Linked DNA regions of Homo sapiens: region 2 is linked to region 1. Evidence: fine-mapped QTL for protein levels in blood plasma. Region 1 holds a variant in brackets. A gene starts in the other region. All regions are shown on their reverse strands.

Region 1 (18,633 bases):
ACTTAAAAGTTCCTGTAAATACTTGTATTCTAACCTTACTCTCTAAGTGACTTGCAGCTCTGTGTAAATCACTTCATCTCTCTGTGTTTCAGTTTCACGAGTATAAAAAAGACTGGAAAATCCATAGAGACAGTACATTAGTGTTTGCCAGGGTCTGGGAAAGGGAGGAATAGAGAACGCTAACAGAGATGAATTTTTGGCAGGTGGCAGGGGGTAGGGGATTATGAGAATGTTCTGGAATTTGTGATAAAAGTTGTGCAAATGTTGGGCAAAACACTGGTGTACTTTAAAAGACTAAATGTTATGGTATTTAAATAATATCTCAGTTTTTAAAAATACCTCAGGAAAAAAAGCAGGCTGGAGAATTTCAGGTGTCTCAGAAAAGATTTCTCTTTGCATGCTAGACCTCTTTGCATGCCTCTGTGCATGCTAGACTTTAGAACAGGCTAGTAGTATTTAGTATTAATAATACTTGAATCATTGTGTAATTTGCAGAATTAAGAAAGTTACACACATATATATGAATGAATCAGTCTGCTTAGTATTAGGTGGGGCTTGGAAATCAGTTTATATTGGAGTTTTTCCTAAAATTTCAGAGAAACTTCAATCAATCCTTTTGGACAGGAGGTGGAGATTACTGTAAAAGGTGAAATGAGCTCCTGAGTTGTATAGTTGTCCACAGCAGAAATGAAAATTAGAGGGCACATGTCCTCAGGACCTCCTGATGCTGTGTCATGTTTAAAAAAAAAAAAAAAGGAAAATTAGAGCAGTCCTTCTAACTTAATAATTATTGGGGTACTACTTTTTCATTCGTGCCAAGCTTTATCAATCTTCCAGGCTGGGCTGGGAGTGATATCTACTGCAGGCCAGCAGTGTCTTCGGGTGTCTGGTCACCATTCTAACCTGTCTATTTGCATTTATCTAATCCTGTTCAAAAGGGGAAGAGGAGGCACTCTATTTATTTACTACTCCCTTATTTAGTTAAGGCTACTGTGTGCCAGATGCCATTTTATGCTCTGGGTATACATACAGAGGGGAAGAAAGCAGATGTGCTTCATAAGATGGTATGAAGAGTTCATGGTCCAGTGGTGGAGACAAATAATTAACAAGTAAACACGAATCCATTTGTTGGAACAACATGATGAAACAAAGGAAAATAGTCAAAGCTGTGAAGGAAAGGAATAGAATGCTTTTTTCTTTTTTTTTTTTGAGACCAAGTCTCACTCTGTTGCCCAGGCTGGAGTGCAGTGGTGTGATCTTGGCTCACTGCAACCTCCATCTCCCAAGTTCAAGCGATTCTCATGCCTCAGCCTCCCAAGTAGCTGGGACTATAGGTGCATGCCATAATGCCTGGCTAATTTTTGTATTTTTAGTAGAGATGGGGTTTCACCATGTTGGCCAGGGTGGTCTGGAACTCCTGACCTCAAGTGATCCACCCACCTCAGTCTCCCAAAGTGCTGGGATTACAGTTGTGAGCCACTGCACCCAGCCATAGAGTGCTTTTTAAAGGGAGGATAACAGTGGAGACATCCTTATATTTATGGGGTCAAGGAATACTTCCCTGTGAAAGTTAGATTTAACTGAAGACCAGAAGGAGAAGTTAGCTAGGTAAGGACTAAAAGGAGAGTAGCATAGGCAAAGATCATGGGTGAGAAAGAGCTGTCCTAGATCAAGAAAGTATAAGAATGCCAGAATGGGTAGAACCTGGTAAACAGAGATGAAGCTGTAGGGGGAGGTAGAGATAGCTTAGGCAGGGCCTTGAAGCTATAGTGGGTTTAAATGGTGGCCCTCCAAAACATGTGTCCATGTCGTAGTCCTTGGAACCTGTGATGTGACCTTATTTGGGAGGAAAAAGTCTTTGTAGATGTAAGTCTACAAAGGATCTTAATGATTATGAGATCATCCTGAATTATCTGGGTGGGCCCTAAATCCAGCGATGTGTCCTTGTAAAAAACATACAGAGGACATAAGAGGAGGCCACGTGAAGCCAGAGGCAGAGATTGGAGTGACACAGCCACAAGCCAGTGAGTGCCTAGAGACATCAGGACCTGGGAGAGGTGGGGAATGAGATATCCCCTAGAGCCTTTGGAGAGAGTGTGGCCCGGCCAACACCATGATTTCAGGCTTCTGGTTTCTGGAACTGTGAGATAATAAATTTCTGTTGTTTTATGCCTCCAGGTTTATGGTAATTTGTTACAGCAGCTACAGGAAACTTGACATGTTTTAGGATTTTGTTCTGAGAGTGGTGGAAATTGTTGGAGGGATTAGTAAGGGAATAACATGATTTGATTTGTACCTCAAAAAGACCACTCTGGCTACTATATGGAGATTGTACTATTAGTAGGGAAATCACTTAGGGGGATTATAGTAATACCAGCAGATGATGTTGGTTCAAACTAGGATAATGGTCTTCAAATTAGTGTGATGGTCTGGGCAAGATGGAAATTTGGGAATTATTAGCATATAAATGGTATTTAGTGTCATGGGAATGAATGAGATCACCTGGGAAGAATGTAGAGCAATGAGAACAAATACCCCATGTCTGAATATTGAAGATATCCAACCTGTAGATCAGAAGAGGAGATAGCAAAATAACCTAAGAAAGAATAATCAGAAAGATAGGAGGGAAAGCCGTTATAGTAGGGTATCATGAAAGCCAAGGGTTAGGAGTGGGGTAGAAATGTTGAAGATAGAGACAATATTAAATAGTCATTAGAGAGAGTGGAGGAAGAAACTAATAGAGAATCATGCACCACTTTGGAGTATATAAGACCCATGTGAACTTAGTTATCAAATTTATAGTGTTTCCAATCTGTTTGGGGGTTGGGTTGACCAGCAATTCTCACTGGTATAGTTATAATCTCAGAAAAGGCAGAGTGATTGGGATTTTTGCCAGGGGAATTTGAAGGAAGGAGGGAGAGTCAAGGGATTGAACGTTATGTGTATGAAGGGGATTATAATTGAATAAGGAGAGAAATGAAGGTTATAAATTGGTTAGTGAAGTGAAGATGGTGAGAAGAGAGCCTCAATGGAGAACATGGGTCTGGATGAGAACATGGGTCTTGGAGTTCTGGATGGGATGGAAGTGAGTGAGTCATAAGGAAAGCAAGTTGTCCTGTGGGTTGCAATCAGAGATTTGAGAAGTGCTCATGTTCTGCTGGTGACAAGATCCTCAGAATGGGTTGCTGAGGAGGCAGGAGAAAAAAGGTCTTTGGAGAGGCCCTATTTTCCCCTTGGTCTGAAATGTTCTTCACCACCTCACTCTTTATTTGGCTGACTCCCTGTCCTTCACACCTCCACTTAAAATGCCCCTGATCACTCTATCTAAATTAAGATTCCACCCCCACACAAAATAAAACTTCCTGCTTTATCTTTCATGCCTCTTAGCACAATTTAAAATGATATAAAGCCAAGCACAGTGGTGCATGCCTGTAGTCCCACCTACTCAAGGGGCTGAGGCAGGAGGGATACCTTGAGCCCAGGAGTTTGAGACCAGCCTGGGGAACATAGTGGGACCCCTATCTTCAAAAAATTAATAAAAATAAATAAATAAATACAATGATATATTTGTCTGTGTTTCCACTTGAATTTAAGCTCCCCAATTAGAGATTTCTGTCTGCTTTGTTACTTAGGACTCCCCCTTTTTGCCACAATGCCTTACATGTTGCTGGGGTCACATATCTGTTGAGTTAATTCATAATGCTCAGAGTTGAAATGGAGAGGAAGACTGTGACCTGAAGTAGCTGACATGTGAAAGAGAAAATGATTGCTGCTTGAAAGGTGTCAGGAAACTTGGTGTCCCCAAGCAGAGTCAAGATTTAAGTACTTAAGGAGGAAGAGGGACTTACAGAGAGGAGGATGTGAATACAAGAGGCATCATCTAGTGGGTGATGTGGCTCAGTGGTAAATTTTGAGGAGAGAAGGCGTGGGTACCAGGTCAGCTTAAGGGGATATCCATAGCATTATGGGAGTGAGAGATTGCACAATGCTTAATGACCAGAGAGGCTTGAGGCTTCAACTTCTGGTCATGATTAGAGGAAGCAGGACCTGAAGCATGTGGATTTTTTTCTTAGTAGACTCTTAGAAGGTAGGATATATTAGTCTGTTCTCCTACTGCAATAAAGAAATACCTGAGGCCGGGCGCAGTGGCTTATGCCTGCAATCCCAGCACTTTGGGAGGCTGAGGCAGGCAGATCACTTGAAGTCAGGAGTTTGAGACTAGCCTGGCCAACATGGTGAAACCCCGTCTCTACTAAAAATAAAAAATTAGCCAGGTGTGGTGGCAGGCGCCTGTAGTCCCAGCTACTTGGGAGACTGAGGGAGGAGAATTGCTTGAACCCGGGAGGCAAAGGCTGCAATGAGCCGAGATCATGCCGCTGTACTCCAGCCTGGACGACAGAGTAAGACTTCGTCTAAAAAAAAAAAAAAAAAAAAAAAAAGAAATACATGAAACTGAGTAACTTATAAAGAAAAGAGTTTTGATTGGCTCACAGTTCCACAGGCTATACAGGAAACATGGCTGGGGAGGCCTCAGGAAACTTAACAATCATGGCAGTAGGTGAAGGAGAAGCAGGCACATCTTACATGGCCAGAGCTGGAGGAAGAGAAGGGGAGGTGCTATATACTTTTAAACAACCAGATCTTGTGAGAACTCACTCACTATCACGAGAACGGCAAGGGGGAATTCTGCCCCTATGATCCAATCATGTCCCTCCAGGCCCCTCCTCCAACACTGGGGATTACAATTCAACATGAGATTTGGGTGGGGTCATAAGTCCAAACCATATTATAGGGGCTCTTAGGTTTCACAGGATGGGTGGAAAGGTGATGAGAGGGAAGAGGATGGGAGAAAACAAAATAGCCTGTGAAGTGTTGTCATCCCTTTTTATGGTTGCGGAAGCTGAAATTTCAGTAACTTGCCCAAAACTATAAAGCTAGTAGGCAGCAGAGCCTAGTAGTGGTCCCCAATCTTTTTGGCACCAGGGACTGGCTTCATGGAAGACAATTTTCACAGCAGGGTTCACACTCCTATGAGAATCTAATGCCGCTGCTGATCTCACTGGAGCTGGAGCTCAAGCCTTAAGGTTTGCTTGCCTGCCGCTCACCTCCTGCTGTGCAGCCCAGTTCCTAATAGGCCATGGACCAGAACCAGTTCGCAGCCTGGGGGTTGGGGACCTCTAGCCTAATAGAGCCTGGTTTGAGTCTGATTTCAGAACCATACCCTTTTCCATTAGGCCAGTCATCCCTTTCGCAGAGGGCCACATTAAAGTTTAAACAAACAGTAAAAGCCTGTTAAAGTATTTTCACAGGGTTTGCAGAATCTGAGCTGTACTTTAGAAGTTTCTGTTGAAAATTACATAATTTTAACATTGAAGTTGTTACTTCCCCCTCTATTTCCTTCAAGGTTATCCTGTCATTGATTCAATCCTGTAACATGTGGTGTGCTTGTACAACAAATGATGGTAAAGAACAAGTTAATCTTTCCTTTTTTGACTGAATAGAAGCAGACTGAAATTTGAACTTTTTAGTTACTTTCCCTGCAGTGAAATCATAATAAAAGTTTGCCAAGAATTCTTTTTTTTTTTTTTTTTCAAATTCTTGATGGCAGCCTATGTGGTACTTTGTGGAGCTTCTCCTATTATAGCTTAAAAAATTACTAAATTTATAAAAGCTGAAAAATTACAAAAGCTAAACTAATTTAGTGTATACACTGAGAGGTAGTAACAGAGTGCAGTGTTTCTCAAATTTCAATGTGCATCAGAATTCAGTGAGAAACTTGTCAAAAATTTATATTCCCAGGTCTCACCCCAAATAATGTATAATTTACTAGAAATAACGTCTTTTTTACAAGGATCCCAGTAACTGTAATGAAGATAATTCATAAATTCCCTTTGCTTTGAGAAGCACTGGTTTATTGGTTAAAAGCCTAGGCTTTGGAATCTTATAAAACTGGGTTAAAAATTGAGCTCTTTTCACTTTTCATCTATATTACCTTGACCAGTTACCTAACCTCACTAAGCCTCGTTTCCTCTTCTGTAAAATAGAGATAATGATATTTATCTGCCTTGTTGTTAGGATTAAATAAAGTAATACTTATAAAGGCGCCTAGTCTGGAGTACAGTGATGCAGTTACAGCACACTGCAGCCTTGACCTCCTGGTCAAGCTCCAGCCGCCCGCCTCCCTCAGCCTCTGGAGTAGCTGGGACTACAGGCATGCACCACGAAACCCAGGTAATTTTTTAAATTGTTTGTAGAGAGCCTCGCTATATTGCTGAGGCTGGTCTTGAACTCCTAGCCTATCGTAGTCCTTCTGCCTTGGCCTCTCGAAGCACTGGGATTACAGGCATGAGCCACCGTGCCTGGGCTTGATACTTACGCAGTATTGAAAAATACTAGGCCCATGGTACCAATTCAGTAAAGGTTTCTGTTGTTGTTATTGCCAGTCCTCAAAGACATGTGAAATTTGAATAAATTAAATTCAATTTCTTCAGCTTGTCATTACTAAAGATTACTTTTTAAAGCACCCACAGCTCCTTTAGACCCAGCTTATACTAGCAAGCTAATTACTTAGTATCAGCTAGAAAGCAAATATGCTTAGTTATTTCCTCATTCAAGGCAAAGGGATTTTAAGTTAGTGCTGTCAGTTAATTGTATTATTATGCAGTGCTTGCATAGTACAAACTACTTCTGACCATATTACAGTATTAAAGTTTGTCTAGTCAAGATTGGAATATTGTCTTTTTATTGTACAACCCTCTCCCTCACTTCCATCTAGGTTTATTGTTGTTTTGAGACAGTCTTACTCTGTCACCCACGCTGGAAGGCAGTGTTGCGATCTCAGCTCACTACAGCCCCAATCTCCTGGATTCTAGTGATTCTCGTGCCTCAGCCTCCCAAGTAGCTAGTACTATAGGTGCACGCCACCACGCCTGGCTCATTTTTGTATTTTTAGTAGAGACAGGGTTTCACCATATTGGCCAAACTGGTCTCAAATTCCTGGACTCGAGTGATTCACCTGCCTTGGCCTCCCAAAGTGCTGAGATTACAGTGAGCCATTATGCCAGGCCCCATCTACGTTTATGGATGTATGTCTGGGGATTGCCTTTTATTTTTCTTTTCTTAAAAATATTTAGAAAGAACTCATTCTCATAGATTTCTTTAGATTTCCCTATTTTTCCCCCAAATAAAGCAGTCTGGTGTTTCTTTTGTGACCCAAAGGCAAGCATGAACCTGGAAATGCAGCATGAAGTACAAAGTCATGGCACCAGGTAAAACTAGAAAGCTGAGTTTATTTTCAGTAATGGACTTTATAGTAGGACATAATGGAGGTAGAAAATACAGAGAAGGACTTCTGAAATAAGTGAAAAATCCAAGGATTTCTATATGAAGGTAATCTGAATTATCAGGAATTTTTTTTTTTTTTTTTGAGACAGAGTCTCACTTTGTTGCCCAGGCTGGAGTGCAGTGGCACCATCTCAGCTCATTGCAACTTCTGCCTCCCGGAGTCAAGCGATTCCCCTGCCTCAGCCTCCCAAGTAGCTGGTGTGCAACACAGTGCCTGGCTAACTTTTTTGCATTTTTAGTAGAGATGGGATTTCACCATGTTGTCCAGGCTGGTCTCGAACTCCTGACCTCAGGTGATCTACCCGCCTCAGCCTCCCAAAGTGTTGGGCTTACAGGCGTGAGCCACTGCACCTGGCCAGTCAGGATTATTTTGAATATGGAATGAAAAGGCCTGAGAGGGAATGTATTTCAAATGTACAAAGTTATCTAAAATATGTACTGTTTGGCCAGGCATGGTGGCTCACGCCTGTATCCCAGCACTTTGGGGGGCCGAAGTAGGCAGATCACCTGAGGCCAGGAGTGTGAGACCAGCCTGGCCAACATGGTGAAACCCTGTCTGTACTAAATACAAAAAAAATTAGCCAGTGTGGTGGGCACCTGTAGTCCCAGCTGCTTGGGAGGCTGAGGCAGGAGAATTGCTTGAACCCAGGAGGCAGAGGCCGCAGTGAGCTGAGATTGTGCCACTGTATTCTAGCCTGGGCGACAGAATGAGACTCCATATCAAAAAAAAAAAAGAATAAAAACATATTTCTTCCTCCAGTGACGAAACTAATTTGTTGCTGAAAATATCAATAGCAAAAACTGCAATTTTGCACAACCTAATAATTGTAAAACTGGACAAAATATATGTGAGTTAGCTGTTTTCAGGCACTGACCTACAGAGAGTGTGAAAACTATGATCTTTGCAAGAAAGAAAACATGCAAGGTGATGATCTCCTTGGCTTTCTTCCTGGGAGCACTTTTCCTGCTGCACAGCAGAGAGGTAGAGCAGCCTCAGAGTAACAGCCTGGCTGAGCTCAGGATGTGCAGAGTGGGAAACTGTGAGACTACCAGGGATCTCTCACTGCTAGACTGAGAGCTGAATGATACTAATGACCATGCAGGGCTGGATGTCTAGGTCTCTAGCTCCAACAAAGAGGAAATCTCTCTGAGCACTTCAGACATTGAGTTGAGACACCAGAAAGGCCAGGTCTTTAGGAATCAGGACCACACCTGAAAGAAAGGGCCATGCCCTAGGACTAATTTCCAAGCTCAAGCAGACCCATGCTACCAAAGAACAAAAGGAAGTGTACAAGAACAAAAAGGAGCCACCTATAATTTAATTGCCTCCCAGTTAAAAAAACGAAACAGGCTGGGCGTGGTGACTCACACTTGCAAACCCAGCATTTTGGGGGGCCAAGGCAGGTAGATCACTTGAGGCCAGGAGTTCGAGACCAGCCTGGACAATATGCTGAAACCCTGTCTCTACTAAAAATACAAAAAAAATTAACTGAGTGTGGTGGCGCATGCTTGTAATCCCAGCTACTTGGGAGGCTGAGGCACAAGAATCACTTGAACCCGGGAGGCAGAGGTTGCAGTGAGCCAAAATCGCCCCACGGCACTCCAGCCTGGGCAACAGAG[T/G]GAGACTCTGTCGCAAAAAAACCAAAATTGAATCCTGAACTCTAGTTAGTGGGATTGTTTTTGCAGTGGTGTGGTTCCATGATTCTGAAACTACTGTTTGTATTTTAGGATTGAGCAAAGATATATTGAGCATGGGAGCCAGGTTTCTTATTGTGGGAAAAGAGAGTCACAGATATGGAAAAAAGGAGGGCAAGAATGTATTCTGTGGTGTTAGATTAGAACTCATGGTTTTTAATACCTATATCAATTGATATACCTACATATAGATAGATAATAGCTTTCTATTTATAGCTAATTTCTTAGTTCTGCCCGTTGAGATTTCTGTCTTACTCCTTAGCTCTGTTCACTGACACACCAGTAGCAATAAGCAAACATTGTGCCCAGATATTGGTTTCTAAATACCATTATCCATTAAAAGAAATCAGAGCTTTTGGAGGGGAAAAAAAAAGGCCCATTTCAGGGCTGGAGTGGGAGAAGTACATCTTAGAACATCGTGTAATTCTAGAAAATAAGGGAGTATTTGAAGAATGGAAATATATCAAAAGGACACAGAGGCCAGCTTTTAAAGGGGCTTTCATTTGCCAAATCTGGAACAATTTGAGAGTCAAAATAAATGATAGTTATGGATTATAACCTGTTGAATTAAATAATCTATGCATTCACACTGATAAAAATAAGTAAATGAGTAAACAGATAAATGGAGGAAAATGGATGGTTCTTCCTTACAACAGTAAATACATTTTTAAAATATTCATTAACTTACTAATTAAACATCAATTAAGTAGTAAATCATAGAATGATGGGTTAGAAAATTATGAAAGGATGCTAAAATTAGTGTGTGACAGTTTGGTGAGGAAGACGATATTTATATAGTCTTGTCTCTCCATCTATTAGTCTGTTCACACACTTCTATAAAGAACCGCCTAAGACTGGGTAATTTATAAAGGAAAAAGGTTTAATTGACACATAGTTTCACATGGCTGGGTAGGCCTCAGGAAATTTAGGATCATAGCCTAAGGGGAAACAAACACATCCTTCTTCACATGGCAGCAGGAGAGACAAGTGCAGAGCAAAGGTGGGGAAGCTCCTTATAAAACCATCGGATCTTGTGAGAAATCACTCACTATCATGAGAACAGCCCCCATGATCTAATCACCTCCCACAAGGTCCCTCCCCCAACACATGGATTATAATTCGGATTACAATTCAAGATGAGATTTTCGGTGGGGACACAGCCAAACCATATTATGCTACAAGTTACTAATTAATTCCAAAGGGAAAAATAGTAACTTTACATGGTAGAGGTAGGATCACCTAAACCAAGCAATCAAAGTAAACATCAACACTATTAGGACAAAGAGACATCATGTGCACCCTAATATGATGCACTGCTAAGGGTACAACATAACTTTTGTGATATTCTTGTCAAAATTATATCTTCAATCTAATAAAATTAACAAACATGCTACCAAAATAACAAGCCTATAGTCTTCAAGAACATCAAGGTCAATAAAGACAAAGAGCAACCTAAGAACTCTTCTGTAATTTTTCTGTAAGCTTAAAATTATCAAAATAAAAATTTACCAAAAATAAGAGGGAAAAGGGAATGAGGCAGCTCTAGGTATTAACAAAACATTGTCTCCAACATATATCATGCTAAGTAGACTGAGGAAGCAAGATAGAGAGGCAAAATGCAGAATAGCAAGAATAATATACTACCATTTGTATAAAAAGCATATGAGAATAGACACACACATTTGTATAAGCACAAAGGATTCCCCAGAAATTAGTAATGCTGGTTGCTTCTGGGAAGGAGAACCAGGTTGCCAAGGACTAGAAGGAGATTTCATTAAATGCTGTTTTGTAATGTTGGAATTCTGTAATATTGGAATTCTGTTTCAGGTACACATATTACCAACTGAAAAGATACGTAAGATAATTTGTAAGAAACAAAAAACTGGAGACGGTAACATTTCTTTTCAGAAAATAGTGTTCCAGACAGAGCCTCTAAGTAACTGCAGCTGATTTTGGTCAAATCAATGAGTGAGAAAGCTTGAGTTGACTCAAGGAAGTTATTGGTACTTAAGGTGACACAAAGACGGGTGGCCATTTGGACATTGTGTGACAGACAAAGAGCAAACATGTTTTCCATTTGTTGTTCTTTGTTGTCACCTCCAGAGACAAAGCACTGACCTAGGTAAGCATGGGCTTTGTTCTTTCTTCTGCCAACAGGGATTTCTTGAAACAATGGATTATTGTTATAGAACATAAATAGTTTTTTTAAACTGGTAGATTACTAGTTAATGTTTTCCCTTAATTTCCTCCCTTTTGACATTTTATCTCGAAATAGACCCGTTGAAGATGAATGGTACAAGCTTTGACATTTTAAATTATGTGGTAATGTTTATATAGGGTGTGGTTTAATGGAAATGTATGAAAGCAAATTCCAAGTTGACACAGTACAACACTGACATCAATAACCAAATACATTTTATTATCATGGTATTAGGGTTTGGTAGGACAGTTCTTTCCTAAGAAAGAAGGTTAAGGAAGTAAAGAGGGAAATTCAATGTTGGTTTTCATAGTTTTTTTTTTTTTTTTTTTTTTTTTTGAGACAGGGCCTTGCTCTGTCTGGAGCAGGCTGGAGTGCAGTGGCGCAATCGTGGCTCAGTACAGCCTCTATCTCCCACCTCAGCCTCCCCCACCCCCACAGAGTAGCTGGGAATACAGGTGCAGGTCACCATGCCCAGCTAATTTTTTTGTTATTTTTTGTAGAGACGGGGTTTCGAGACGTTGCCCAGCTGGTCTCAGACTTCTGGGCTGAAGTGATCTGCTGCCTTGGGGGTCGTAATATGTTATATAATATGTATTAACTCCCTCCTATTTTCTTCTGACTCCATGCCTTTCTGGCTTTGATCCCACTTTCTTGAGGAAGAAAACACATGGACAAATTCTGATGTTAGGAATATTTTAAGTATATATCTTCAATATTATTTATCCAGGACCAAAGTAAGTCCTGATGCAGGAAATGAGTGAGTTTCACAGCTTTCTGAGCCCCTACTCGACCCAGGAAGCCCCGCTGGAACCTCCTCTCTCTTGGGCCCAGGGCCAGCTTTGTGGGCATACCTCCTGTACAGTTGCACAGGGCCCCATGCTTAGTTTAATGCTATGAAATTCTTAATTATTTTCCTATAAGAGCTTCACATTTACGTTTTGCACTAGGCCCTGCAAATTATGTAGCAGGTCCTGATCAGGCCTGATTTTACTAAACCTCATTTGACACACTTGTCACCCTCTTGGAATGCTCCTTCTCTTCCTGGACACCACAATGTCCTTGTTCCTCTCCTACTTCGTTTGTGGCTCCTTCCTTTGCTCTTCCTTATCTGAACGTTAAGTGTCCTCAACCTCTTCTTTATCTGTACTGATTTCCTCAGTGATCCCATCTAGTTTACAGTCTTTAGTACTTTCTCTAAGTTACTACTAACAGAGAAAACTTTAGCAATAATAGCTACATTTGAGTATTTTTCATGTGGCAGGCATAAATTGCAAGTACTATTTCCTTTAATACTTTTAACACCTCATTTTGCAAATGAAATGTCCTGGGCACAGAGAGGTGGAATAACTTGCCCAAGGGCACACAGCAGTAAGTGACAGCATGGATTTGAACACAGTGAGTCTAATTTCACAGGGTGTTCTTTTAACCACCACACTGTACAGTCAGAACCTCTCCCTGGGCTCCAGGCGGGGTATATCCATCTTCCTACTTGACATTTTCACTTGTATGTCTAATTGGCATCTCAAAACTACTATGTCCACCCCAACCTGTATCACTTCAGATCTCCTTTTCTGGTCTTTCTCATCTCATTAAATGGCACTAAAACTCACTTCAGTGCCCAGGCCAAAATTCTAGCATCTTCTCTTTTTCTCTCCCTCACATCTAGTCATTAGCAAGTCTCATAGACCCTACAGTATATCTTGATTTTGACTCTTTTTCCTCCTTCCAAGGCTCGCAGTCTAGTCCAGACCACTGCTTTCTCCTGACTGCGTGATTGCAGTAGCCTCCTAATAGATCTGTCCCTTGCCCCTTGTAGCTTCTCCACACAACAGCTAGAGTGATGTTTTCTGCTTTTTCCTAAATGTTTTATTGAAGCATTGATATGTTCCAAAAATTGCACAAATCATATAACTGTAAAGCTTGATGAATATTTAGAATGTGACCTGCTTATTTAACCAAAACCCAGAGTGAGAAGCATAACATTACCAGCATCTCCGGAAGTCCCCTCTTGTGTTCCCTTCCAGCCACTATACTCCCTCCCTGCCATCCACATAATCACTATGTTTGCTTCTAACTTCATAGGTTAATTTTGCTTCTTCTTAAACTTCATATAAGTAAAATTTAACACAGTGGGTATGCAACATGAATATATCACAATTTATGTATTCATTTTACTTGGATAGTTGGGCTTCTAGCTTTGATCTATTGTGAATAGTATTGCCACAAACATTGCACATGTCTTTTGCTAACCATACATAAGAATTTCTGTGGGTATATTCCTAGAAGTGGAATTGCTGAATCAAATACTAAGTATATATTCAGCTTCAATAGATATTTCAAAATAGATTTTCAAAGTGGTTATAACCACTAGTAGTATATGAACATTCCAGTTGTTCTACATCCTCACCAAGATTTGGTGTTATTTATCTTTTTCATTGTAATCATTCTGATGAGTGTGCACGGATATCTCATTGTGGTTTTAATTTACGTTTTCGTGATGACTAATGGAATTGAGCACATTTTCATATGTTTATTGACCATATGGGTATCTTCTTTTGCAAAGTGCCTGTTTAAGTCCTTTGCCTATTTTTGTTGTTGTTGTTGGGTAGTGTGCCTTTTTCTTATTGATTTGTAGCATTCTTTTTAAATTTTATTTTTTTTGTAGAGATGGAGTCTCATTATGTTGCCCAAGTTGGTCTCAAACTCCTGGCCTCAAGTGGTCCTCTCACCTTGGCGTCTCAAATTGCTGGGATTACAGGCATGAGCCACTGTACCTGGCTGATTCGTAGCATTCTTTATAGATTCTGTATATGCACACTTTGTTATGTGTTGGATATATGTGTTGTAAATATCTTCTTTGCCACTTGGTGGCTTGCTTTTCTACTTGGTTAGTGGTATCTCTCAGTGAACAAAACTTCTTAATTTTTGCACAGTACAAATTATCATTCTTTTCCTCTATACTTATTAACGTTAATGTCTTTTTTCTTTCTTTTTTTTTTTTATTGATCATTCTTGGGTGTTTCTTGCAGAGAGGGATTTGGCAGGGTCATAGGACAATAGTGGAGGGAAGGTCAGCAGATAAACAAGTGAACAAAGGTCTCTGGTTTTCCTAGGCAGAGGACCCTGCGGCCTTCCGCAGTGTTTGTGTCCCTGGGTACTTGAGGTTAGGGAGTGGTGATGACTCTTAAGGAGCATGCTGCCTTCAAGCATCTGTTTAACAAAGCACATCTTGCACCGCCCTTAATCCATTTAACCCTGAGTGGACACAGCACATGTTTCAGAGAGCACAGGGTTGGGGGCAAGGTCATAGATCAACAGCATCCCAAAGCAGAAGAATCTTTCTTAGTACAGAACAAAATGGAGTCTCCTATGTCTACTTCTTTCTCCACAGACACAGCAACAATCTGATTTCTCTATCTTTTCCCCACATTTCCCCCTTTTCTATTCCACAAAACCGCCATCGTCATCATGGCCCGTTCTCAATGAGCTGTTGGGTACACCTCCCAGATGGGGTGGTGGCCGGGCAGAGGGGCTCCTCACTTCCCAGAAGGGGCGGCCGGGCAGAGGCGCCCCCCACCTCCTGGATGGGGCGGCGGCCGGGCAGAGGCGCCCCCCACCTCCCTCCCGGACGGGGCGGCTGCCGGGCGGAGACGCTCCTCACTTCCCAGACAGGGTGGCTGCGGGGCGGAGGGGCTCCTCACTTCTCAGACAGGGCGGCTGCCAGGCGGAGGGGCTCCTCACTTCTCAGACGGGGCGGCTGCCGGGCGGAGGGGCTCCTCACTTCTCAGATGGGGCGGCTGCCGGGCGGAGGGGCTCCTCACTTCTCAGATGGGGCGGCTGCCGGGCGGAGGGGCTCCTCACTTCTCAGACGGGGCGGCCGGGCAGAGACGCTCCTCACCTCCCAGACGGGGTCGCAGCAGGGCAGAGGCTCTCCTCACATCCCAGATGGGGTGGCGGGGCAGAGGCGCTCCCCACATCTCAGACGATGGGCGGCCGGGCAGAGACGCTCCTCACTTCCTAGACGGGATGGTGGCCGGGCAGAGACGCTCCTCACTTCCCAGACGGGGTGGCAGCCAGGCAGAGGCTGCAGTCTTGGCACTTTGGGAGGCCAAGGCAGGCGGCTGGGAGGTGGAGGTTGTAGCTAGCTGAGATCATGCCACTGCACTCCAGCCTCGGCAACATTGAGCACTGAGTGAATGAGACTCCGTCTGCAATCCCGGCACCTCGGGAGGCCGAGGCTGGCAGATCACTCGCGGTTAGGAGCTGGAGACCAGCCCGGCCAACACAGCGAAACCCCGTCTCCACCAAAAAAATACAAAAACCAGTCAGGCGTGGCGGCGCGTGCCTGCAATCGCAGGCACTCGGCAGGCTGAGGCAGGAGAATCAGGCAGCAAGGTTGCAGTGAGCCGAGATGGCAGCAGTACAGTCCAGCTTCGGCTGGGCATCAGAGGGAGACTGTGGAAAGAGAGGGAGAGGGAGACCGTGGGGAGAGAGGGATAGGGATAGGGATAGGGATAGGGATAGATGTCTTTTTTTCACAAAAATGAATAATTTTTTTATTTTAAAACATCACAAGTAATTACAAAGACAAATGTCCCAACTATACAAACTTTTTCACATATACATATATACACACATATATTTAAGGTTGGTTGATCTTTCATCTTTTTATCTGAGTAAAAAGAAGAACACTTTCCTCATTCAGGAGATTTTTGATGTTATAATAGTTACCTGAAGGAACATAGAACGAATCCCCAGTACTTATTATATAAGGTATTTCGTGTAAAGTACACGAAAGGTCACCAAAGTTAACATAAAAAAACAATATATCCTGGCCAACATGCTGCTTTCCCTTTTCTTCTTGTGGTCTTAATATCAATTTCCCAGTAGAAAAAAAGGGTGTATCCAATGTGTTATATACCTTCAACTCACCATGCTTAACAAAAAATTGATATGTATCTTGTGGCCTTACAAGATCCATGAGAATAATCTCTCTTGTTTCTGGGTCCTTTACCATTGCTGGCTGCAAAGGATCTCCAAGAGGTATACCTAGATTTACCATTAAGCTAGTCTTTCTTTCATCGTTATCAAGACAGATCCTTTTCTTATTAGATTTTTTTGTCAACTTTTCCAATATTTTCTCTTGCCTTCCTTTTAGACGATATTTTGCCTGGAGATAGTATTCCACTAATCACGAATCCTCCTGATGGCCTTCCTTGATAATCTATTTGCTGTCCTCGCCAGTACTCCAAAGGTTTCAAACGTGTTCTCTTGGTCCTGCGAACATTTGGTGTGTTGGAGGGCAATACTAGTTTGTGATGGATTCTGTTCTTTGGTATCACTTTAGTTCGTTTTGAGTCATCTGAACTTCCAGGAACTTCCTCATCATCCACATCATTATTATTCTTTCCAGACATTAAATAATTATTATTGAGCCTGGAAGGTCCACTTTCCTCTAAAACTGAAGTCTTATGCTCTCCAGAATCCAAGTTTGACTCTGTTGGTGTATTACATGTATATCCACTGGTCTGAGGCTTTAGGGGAACATTCTGTGCAGTCATAATATTATCTTCATTCTTTGAGCTTCCTGTAGATCTAGAACAATCCAGATTTTTCCTCTTAGCCAAGTCTGCCTCATCACTTTCCAATGGCTCACTCAGGAAACAACTGGAAATTTCATCATGACCAATGATACCTCCAGAACCTTTAGCATTTAAAAACTTCTGTACTCTTTGGCTGTCTTTAGTTGCTGTCTTCTGCCTTTTAAGTGGAATAGTTTTTTTCCCAATATTCTTAGATGACTGATTTGTTTTCTTAGCAGATTTTTGCCTACTGTTGTGATGCAGTGGTAATTCATTTCTTATTGAAGAATTGCTATAAACAGGACTCTCCTCTGATTTTACCACCCACCAATTAGACGGATGCCTGGAAATTCTTCGACTTCTCGTGACAGTTGAAGTCACTTCTTCAGACACAAGTTTGTTCTTGGACTCACTAGAAAAGCGCTTCTTTTTAGATTCTTCCTTATCTTTTCTAGTGCTACTTTTCTTGCTTCCCACAGGTGGCATCTGTATTTTGGAAGCACAATCATTTCCCATCTCTTCACGCTCTTCCATATTTCTGTCTGAATTTCTTTGAAATTTGTCTTGGGTAATATGTGACATATGTATGTTTTCATCTTTAGTCTGTCCCACATCGAGCTGTTCTTCAGCTGGTTTAGCCATAAATTTTCTTCTCTGTTTTTGTTTTATAGTCCTTTTGCTTCCAGATGATTTTTCTGCATTCTTGGAATACATTTCATATTTTGTAGATCTACAGTCATTTTCTGTTTCACCTGTCAAAGCATAACTTGTATCCAGTACTGTTTTATCAGAGGGCTGAGATGTCTCTACTAGGTGAGGTTTATGGGAATGTTTGTCATTTGCCAAAGTCTTAGCTAATATATTATGATGCTTTTCTCTTGACTTTCTATCTTGAAGGAGTGCAGTGCTCTCAGCCGGGGATATGGTGCGTTGTTTCAGAGGCCCCGCCTTTCTTGGTATAGTAATCCCAAGATCTACTGGCAAAACTTTGATCTGACTTATCAATTATAAATTCATCCTCTATCAACTTCATATCATCGGGAGGACACGAATGAGGTGGAACAATTCCTCCATGCCTAACAATGGGACTGGATTCACTTTTTCGTTTTACTGTTTCTAAAAACAATGTTGAAAAACTTTTTTTAGCTTGTCATTGAATTTCATATTCTGAATGTCGTATTCTATTCTGAGATGATCCTGATGGTTTTCTTTCTTGTCCTTCTGATGTTTTATCCTCTTTATCTGATACTTTATTATCTATTTCTATCTATTTCTATTTTCTTTAAAATAACTTTATCTTCAAAGTTTAATCTTTTTTTGGTTTTAAGTGAAACCTCTGTACTTGAAGGCAGCATATTTACTGAATTTTCAAAAGTGTAAGTCTCTCTCTTTTGGGCACTAGATGGAATAACATTTTGCGATACAGATGTTTTTGCATCCAAAAGAACAGAAGGTGAGCCAACAGATAAGTAAAATTCTTCATCAGCTTCACTGTGATGATCATTTATGTTTCTACTTCACATTTTTTTCAAGTCAGGTGTATTTTTGGAACTAACATCAGTTGCCAGAATTTTCTGACGAACTTCATGGGCCTGAACTGATCTGTTGGTGGCTTCACTTGGTTCTACAACAAACTGCAGAGAGGCTTCTTTCTTCCTTGAAGAAAGTGGAACTGACTTTGGATGTGATTTCTGGCACTCTTTGCTTGGTGACTGAATACAAGTGTCTTTTATTTTGCGTGTTGAATTAAGCACTGATTTTGTAGAATTTGTGCTAAAATCATTGGCAAGACTTTTTTCTTCAAAACAGTCT
Region 2 (6,307 bases), not on the chromosome of region 1:
TCAAGTGACTCTCATGTCTCAGCCTCCCGAGTGGCTGGGACTACAGGGTGCACACTACCATGCCTGGCTAATTTTGTGTTTTTAGGAGACACGGGGTTTCACCATGTTGGCCAGGCTGGTCTCAAACTCCTGACCTCAAGTGATCCACCCGCCTTGGCCTCCCAAAGTGCTGGGATTACAGGCGTGAGCCAACGTGCCTGGCCTCAAACAATTAATTAGACTAGTAGGTAGTCAGACCAAAAATAAAGAAGACGCAGATATAAAATTCAAAAGAAAAATTTGCAAATCTCTGCAAATAAGTCTGCAAACCTGGGCGACACTGATGATTTTTTAGGAAAATATAAATCATCAATGTAGGCCAAGAATAGACTTTTTTTTTTTTTAAGAGACGGGGTCTTGCTTGCTATACTGCCCAGGCCAGTCTCGGACTCCTGGGCTTAAGCTATCCTCCCACCTCAACCTCCTAAAATTCTGGGATTACAGGTGTGAGCCACTGCACCCAGCTAGATTTTTTTTAATGTAGACCAAAAATGATGAGTGTTATTAAGAAATTCTTTCCCTTCCATCAAAAAAAAAGAAGCAAAACTCAGACAGTTTTACAAGCTAGTTCTCTAAAAACTTCAAGGAACAAATAATTTCAATTTTATGTAAACATTTGCAGAGAACACGGAAACAGGGAGATCTCCCTAATTCTTTCCATGAAGCCAGCATAATAAATCAAGACAAACATCTGACCAGATCTCCTAATGTAGTTCACCTCCTTCATAGCTGAAAGGATAATAATAATAATAATTTCTATAAATAATAAAAATGGTATTTTGTGGGGGCCGGAGGCCAAGGCTGGCAGATTGCCTGAGCTCAGGAGTTCGAGACCACCTTGGGCAACATGGTGAAACCCCGTCTCTACTAAAATACAAAAAAATTAGCCAGCAGTGGTGGTGGGTGCCTGTAAGCCCAGTTATTCAAGAGGCTGAGGCAGGAGAATCACTTGAACCCGGGAGGCGGAGGTTGCAGTGAGCTGAGATCAAGCCACTGCACTCCAGCCCTGGGTGATAGAGTGAGATTCTGTCTCCAAAAAAATAAATAAAAATAAAATAAAAAATGTTTTGTAGGGGCCAGGTGTGGTGGTTCATGCCTGTAATCCCTGCATTTTGGGAGGACAAGATGGGAGGATCCCTTGATCCCAGGAGGTGGAGGCCAGCCTGGGCAACATGGTAAGACCCTGTCCCTAAAAAAAATTAAGAATCCAGCTGGGTGTGGTGGCACACACCTGTAGTCTCAGCTACTGGGGAGGTTGAGGTGGGAGGATCACTTGAGCCCGGGAGGTGGAGGCTACAGTGAACCGTGATTGCACCACCGCACTCCAGTTTGGGTGACGGAGGGAGACCCTGTCTCAAAAAAATAAAAATGTTGGCCAGGCTTGGTGGCTCACGCCTGCAATCCCAGCACTTTGGGAGGCCAAGGTGAGTGGATCACCTGAGGTTGGGAGTTTGAGACCAGCCTGACCAACATGGAGAAAGCCCATCTCTACTAAAAATACAAAATTAACCAGGCATGGTGGTACATGCCTGTAATCTCAGCTACTCGGGAGGCTGAGGCAGGAGAATCACTTGAACCTGGGAGGCGTAGGTTGCAGTGAGCCAAGATCGCGCCACTGCACTCCAGCCTGGGCAACAAGAGCAAAACTCCATCTCAAAAAATAAATAAATAAATAAATAAATAAATAAATAAATAAAAGTAAAAATGCTTTGTGAATAGTCATTGGTGGATCCCTTCTTCCTAATAATGAGAAGCTCTGGTCCTTTTTCCCTGAGTCAGCAACAAGGCAGGGACAACCACTACCACTATGTCCGCTGGGCCTCACTCCGGCTGTACCAGCCAATGAGTCAATGGGAGAAAGAGAAACAGATATTAGACAGGAACTGAAACCTTCCCATGCACACCGACCCTATGAAACAGAAGAACACCCAAGAGAATCGCAGGAGCACCTGTTATGGGAGGATGACCCGTTTCCAAGTCAAGACACCAAAAGTAATAACCTTCCCACAGACAAGTAGTTAGCAAATATAATTGCAGAAAACCTCCGATCTGTAAGGAAAGCAACCACAAAGACGTACAATACCCTAGGACTAGGCCTGAGGAGTCTGCACAGGAGCTGTCTGAGGAGAGCGGTGGACGTGACTGAAGGCACAGCAGGTGACTCTGCGGGAGGAATCCCTGCGCTTGGACAGGGAAGACTCAACTCCACGCTTCTCCCTAAAGAAGATCTCAGCGCTTCTCTGCCCGATCTTTTCCCTCCTCGCCCTCCCCACCACCTTTTCTGTCCCCTCTGTCCCATATCCCCTTCTTGGAGAGGACTGACCCCTGGTTCTCAGGCCCATGCAGGGGCTAACCCCAGCCAAGGCTGCCTCGGGACTTCCCCCTGCTCAGGCCCCAGCCGCTGGGCTGCCCTGGTTAAATCTCCGCATTCCAGAGACTATCGATCTGCTCCCCACCCCGACCCTATCTCCCTCACCGCCCCACCCCCTCCTCCGTACCCTGCACCTAGTGAGGCCGGCATCTCCCCCACCCTCCCCACACCCCCCTCCTCCATACCCTGCACCCAGTGAGCCCGGCATCTCCCCCACCCTCACCACATGCCCCTCGCAGTCAGTGGCTGCCACTCTCCACCCACCCTGACACATCCTGCCTCTCGTCCCCCTTCCTGTAAGAATTCAACTGAAAACCTAAAAGGTCCCTTTTCTGCACCCACCCCTTATCACTTGCCCCGCTGTGGTTCAGCCAAGGTACGTGGGTGCAGAGCCGGGAGAGGCCCTGGCTCCTTCCTCTCCCAGGGGTGTGGACCTTCATCTGTCCATCTTATGTGGTAGACAGAGCGCACCGCATTCTGCGTTCTGCACGGAGTCCAGACTCGGGGCGTCTCGTGTGATACCTGCCCTGCGGCCCTGCCCCTCGCACCCTCCCTCCCTGCCGCAGACTTTCCCGGGAAGGGAAACTCTCACCTGGGACCCAGAGAAGCAACAGAGCCCAAGGCAGCCACATGGTCCCTTCCCCAGCACAGGCGGCACTTGCAGCAGCTCCAGGCCCTACCTGGACCCGAGGGGAAAGTCACGCCTCCAAGGCCCCGACTTCTGCTTTTCTTGGTGCCGCGCTGCTTCCTTGTTCAGCTTCTTTTGGTTCTATTCCTGGAGCCGGTCAGAAAATGCAGGAAGCTGGTGAGCCCCGACTAAGACTCCCTAGAAACGGCACGTCCTCCTTAACGCTGGTTGAGGCTGCAGGTTCTTCGGCTATTTCTAGTGATGAGACCTCTCCCTGTAGTGACTCCGTAGCTTGCAGGACTGATCCCCGACTCTCACTTCCCCGGGTCTCCTCCTAGTGGAAGGCCCAATAACTCCTCCCTCCTTTCCTTGTGGTCAAGGTGGGCAACCCTGGGGGTGGGACCCGCTGAGCTGGCTCCTCTCACCCTCGGTGGTGCCCACGAGGAGGCTGCCAGGGGGAACTCCCCTTTCCTGAGTCCCTTCCCTGAGTCCCTTGGAGGTCCAGGCCTGGGCTTCGGGGCTGAGGGAAGGGGAGTTGTCATCGTGACTCCAGAGTCCCTGAATGGTTCCTAGTCTTGGAAATGTGTCCTCAACTTGACACAGAGGTCCTCCGGCCATGCCTTCCTTTCTATATAGCCCCATTGGAGCCAACTCGGGGCTGGGCACAGAGCAGGGACTCAGCGAGCCTGCAAGGACCCCTTTCCTGATCCACACAGAGTGCAGACTCTAAACACACACACGCTCACACTCACATACACACTCACACCCACACACACTCACCCACACACATTCACAAACACACACTCACATACACACACTCACACTCACCCACACACATTCACAAACACACACTCACATACACACTCACACAAACACACTCACCCACACACATTCACAAACACACTCACATACACACTCACACAAACACTCACCCACACACATTCACAAACACACACAAACACACTCAGCCACACACATTCACAAACACACAAACACACCCACACATTCACAAACACACTCGCATACACACAAACACACATTCACACACCCACACACATTCACAAACACACACTCACATACACACTCACATGCACACATATTCACACACACCCACACATTCACACTCACACATACACACAAACACATTCACAAACAAACACGTTCATGCACATACACTCACATATACACACTCACACACACATTCACAAACACTTTCACAAACACATACACACACGTACACACAAACACATACACACATTCACAAACACGTTCATGCACATACACACACACACACAAACATTCACACACCCACACACAAACACACACAAACACACTCACACTCTCACATACACACACACTCACCCAAACACACTCACATACACACACATTCACACACACCCACACACATACACTCACACAAACACATTCACACACCCACACACATTCACAAACACACACATACGCACACATTCACAAACACACGTTCATGCACACACACATATACACACACACAAACACACAGGCACTCTCACCCACACACATTCACAAACTCACATTCACACACAAACACAAATTCACACACACTGATACAAACACACATACACATTCACACATTGAAACACTCAAATTCACACAACGCACTTACATATACAACTGAAATACACTCACACATTCACACACAAACTCACACACTGACACATTCACACACAGTGACATACACTCACACACACACAGTCTCACACACGTGCCTTGAGTAGGTGCCCCAGCTTGCACAGAATGACCAGGTGGGCACAGGAAATGCCACTCCTAATGTGTAATGCGTCACCTGGGAGCTTGCAGTCCCCAAGCTCAGAGTGTCCACCCACATGGAGCCCTGTGCCAGCTATGGGATCCCAAGAATATCCTTCCCTCTGGCCCTTTTTGGAATTTGTCACTTTCCTCTTCCTTCTGAACACAGGGGCGCCTTGCCCACGAAGGTGTCAGGAAGCCAAGGAGACCTATGGGCTCTGCTGCTGGAAGATTCAATGACAAAGCCTGGTGGACATTGTGGAAATTTTCATGATGATGCAGTCATAGATTAACTAAACCTCATTAAGATCCAAGACACTTCGGGCCGGGCGCGGTGGCTCACTCCTGTAATCCCAGCACTTTGGGAGGCCGAGGCAGGCGGATCACGAGGTCAGGAGTTCGAGACCAGCCGGGCCAACGTGGCAAAACCCTGTCTCTACTAAAAATAAAAAAAATGTGGCGGGCACCTGCAATCCCAGCTACTCGGGAGGCTGAGGCAGGAGAATCGCTTGAACTCGAGAGGCAAAGGTTGCGGTGAGCCAAGATCGTGCCATTGCACCCCAGCCTGGGTGACAAGAGCAAGACTCCGTCTCAAAAAAAAAAAGATCCAAGACACTTTGGATCATGACACTGTTGAGCTGAACATAAAAATGCAGGAGATGTGTCATATTCGGTGGCTTATGTGGCCTGATCATTGCAAAGTTTCTCAAAAATTATTTTTTGATTCAACCATGACCAAAAAGGCGCTGCTGCAATCTTGAACGTCCAGGCCAGACAGAGAAGCAGAAGGCTAAGTTCTGGCGTGGCTTGTCCACTTACCACCGAATGAACTTGAGCAAAGCCTGTGGCTTCTGTAAAACGTCAATAATGACAGCTCCTCTGTGGGAATAAATATTATTATGATTATACAAATACTGAAATGTCAGTGTTCCTTAACATCCTCAGGTCAGTTTTTTCTGAGGGAATATATCTCTACTTTTGATGAAAGGTAATAGGAAAATTGGATTCCACAGGAAGTGCGCTTTACACTTTAATCTATGGGATGCAATTCTCCTTAGGCACATAGAGAAACACCTGACTTACTGCAAAGGAGAAGGGATCAGGGGACTTAGACCCTGCCACGCCCATCCTGCTCACCCCATCCTGTCCACAAACCCAAAGGAAGAAACAAAATGGTGCAAAATAACCACAAAACATGAGAGTTTTTTGCCGGAAGTTGCACATTCCGGCTGTGTCCCGATAACCATCAGGTGACATGACTCAGGGGGAGGAGGAGATGAGGCCACAGGGCTGAGGCCCATTTCCCAGGGGTGAGGGTGAGAAGTGGTCCCACAGCAGCCACAAAACTTCTGATCAGCTCTGGAGTCTCTTCCTGGTGTGGACACACGTGCTCAGAGGCCAATGAGGGGTGCTTTCTGGGAAGACCTGCAGCAGCAGCATTGAGTCCTGTGAACCACCCAGTCCTCAGAAAAGATGTGGGG

Direction of the effects. Positions count from the first base shown, and alleles are read on the strand shown. Strength reflects both the effect of a copy and how common the allele is.
As copies of G replace T in region 1, the plasma level of the protein whose gene starts at base 3,112 in region 2 goes down (moderate association).

Evidence for each region. PIP is the posterior inclusion probability: the model's chance that the variant is causal. The UK Biobank Pharma Proteomics Project read protein levels with antibody pairs (Olink). The fine-mapping took linkage between variants from a reference panel, not from the people measured, so its PIPs are less certain.
Region 2: CD300A starts here. The variant in region 1 is fine-mapped to the plasma level of the CD300A protein (UK Biobank, PIP above 0.99).

The regions. Positions count from the first base shown.
Region 1 is chr12:89,500,209-89,518,841 of GRCh38, reverse strand. The region is part of intron 2 of POC1B-DUSP6 (POC1B-DUSP6 readthrough); the gene reads left to right. All of the region lies in intron 2 of POC1B (POC1 centriolar protein B), which reads left to right. It also overlaps the pseudogene CENPCP1. Among named protein-coding and RNA genes, the nearest start is that of GALNT4, 15 kb to the left of the region's middle. RefSeq lists an enhancer at 14,826-15,499. The variant T/G (reference allele first, on the strand shown) is at 8,965.
Region 2 is chr17:74,463,439-74,469,745 of GRCh38, reverse strand. CD300A (CD300a molecule) reads right to left here and starts at 3,112. Exons shown (of 7, transcript NM_007261.4): 1 at 3,003-3,112. The coding sequence starts at 3,042. LOC124904056 (a long non-coding RNA gene) reads left to right here and starts at 1,972. Exons shown (of 2, transcript XR_007065899.1): 1 at 1,972-2,196; 2 at 4,996-5,738. RefSeq lists an enhancer at 1,971-2,100 and silencers at 2,461-2,520, 2,561-2,620.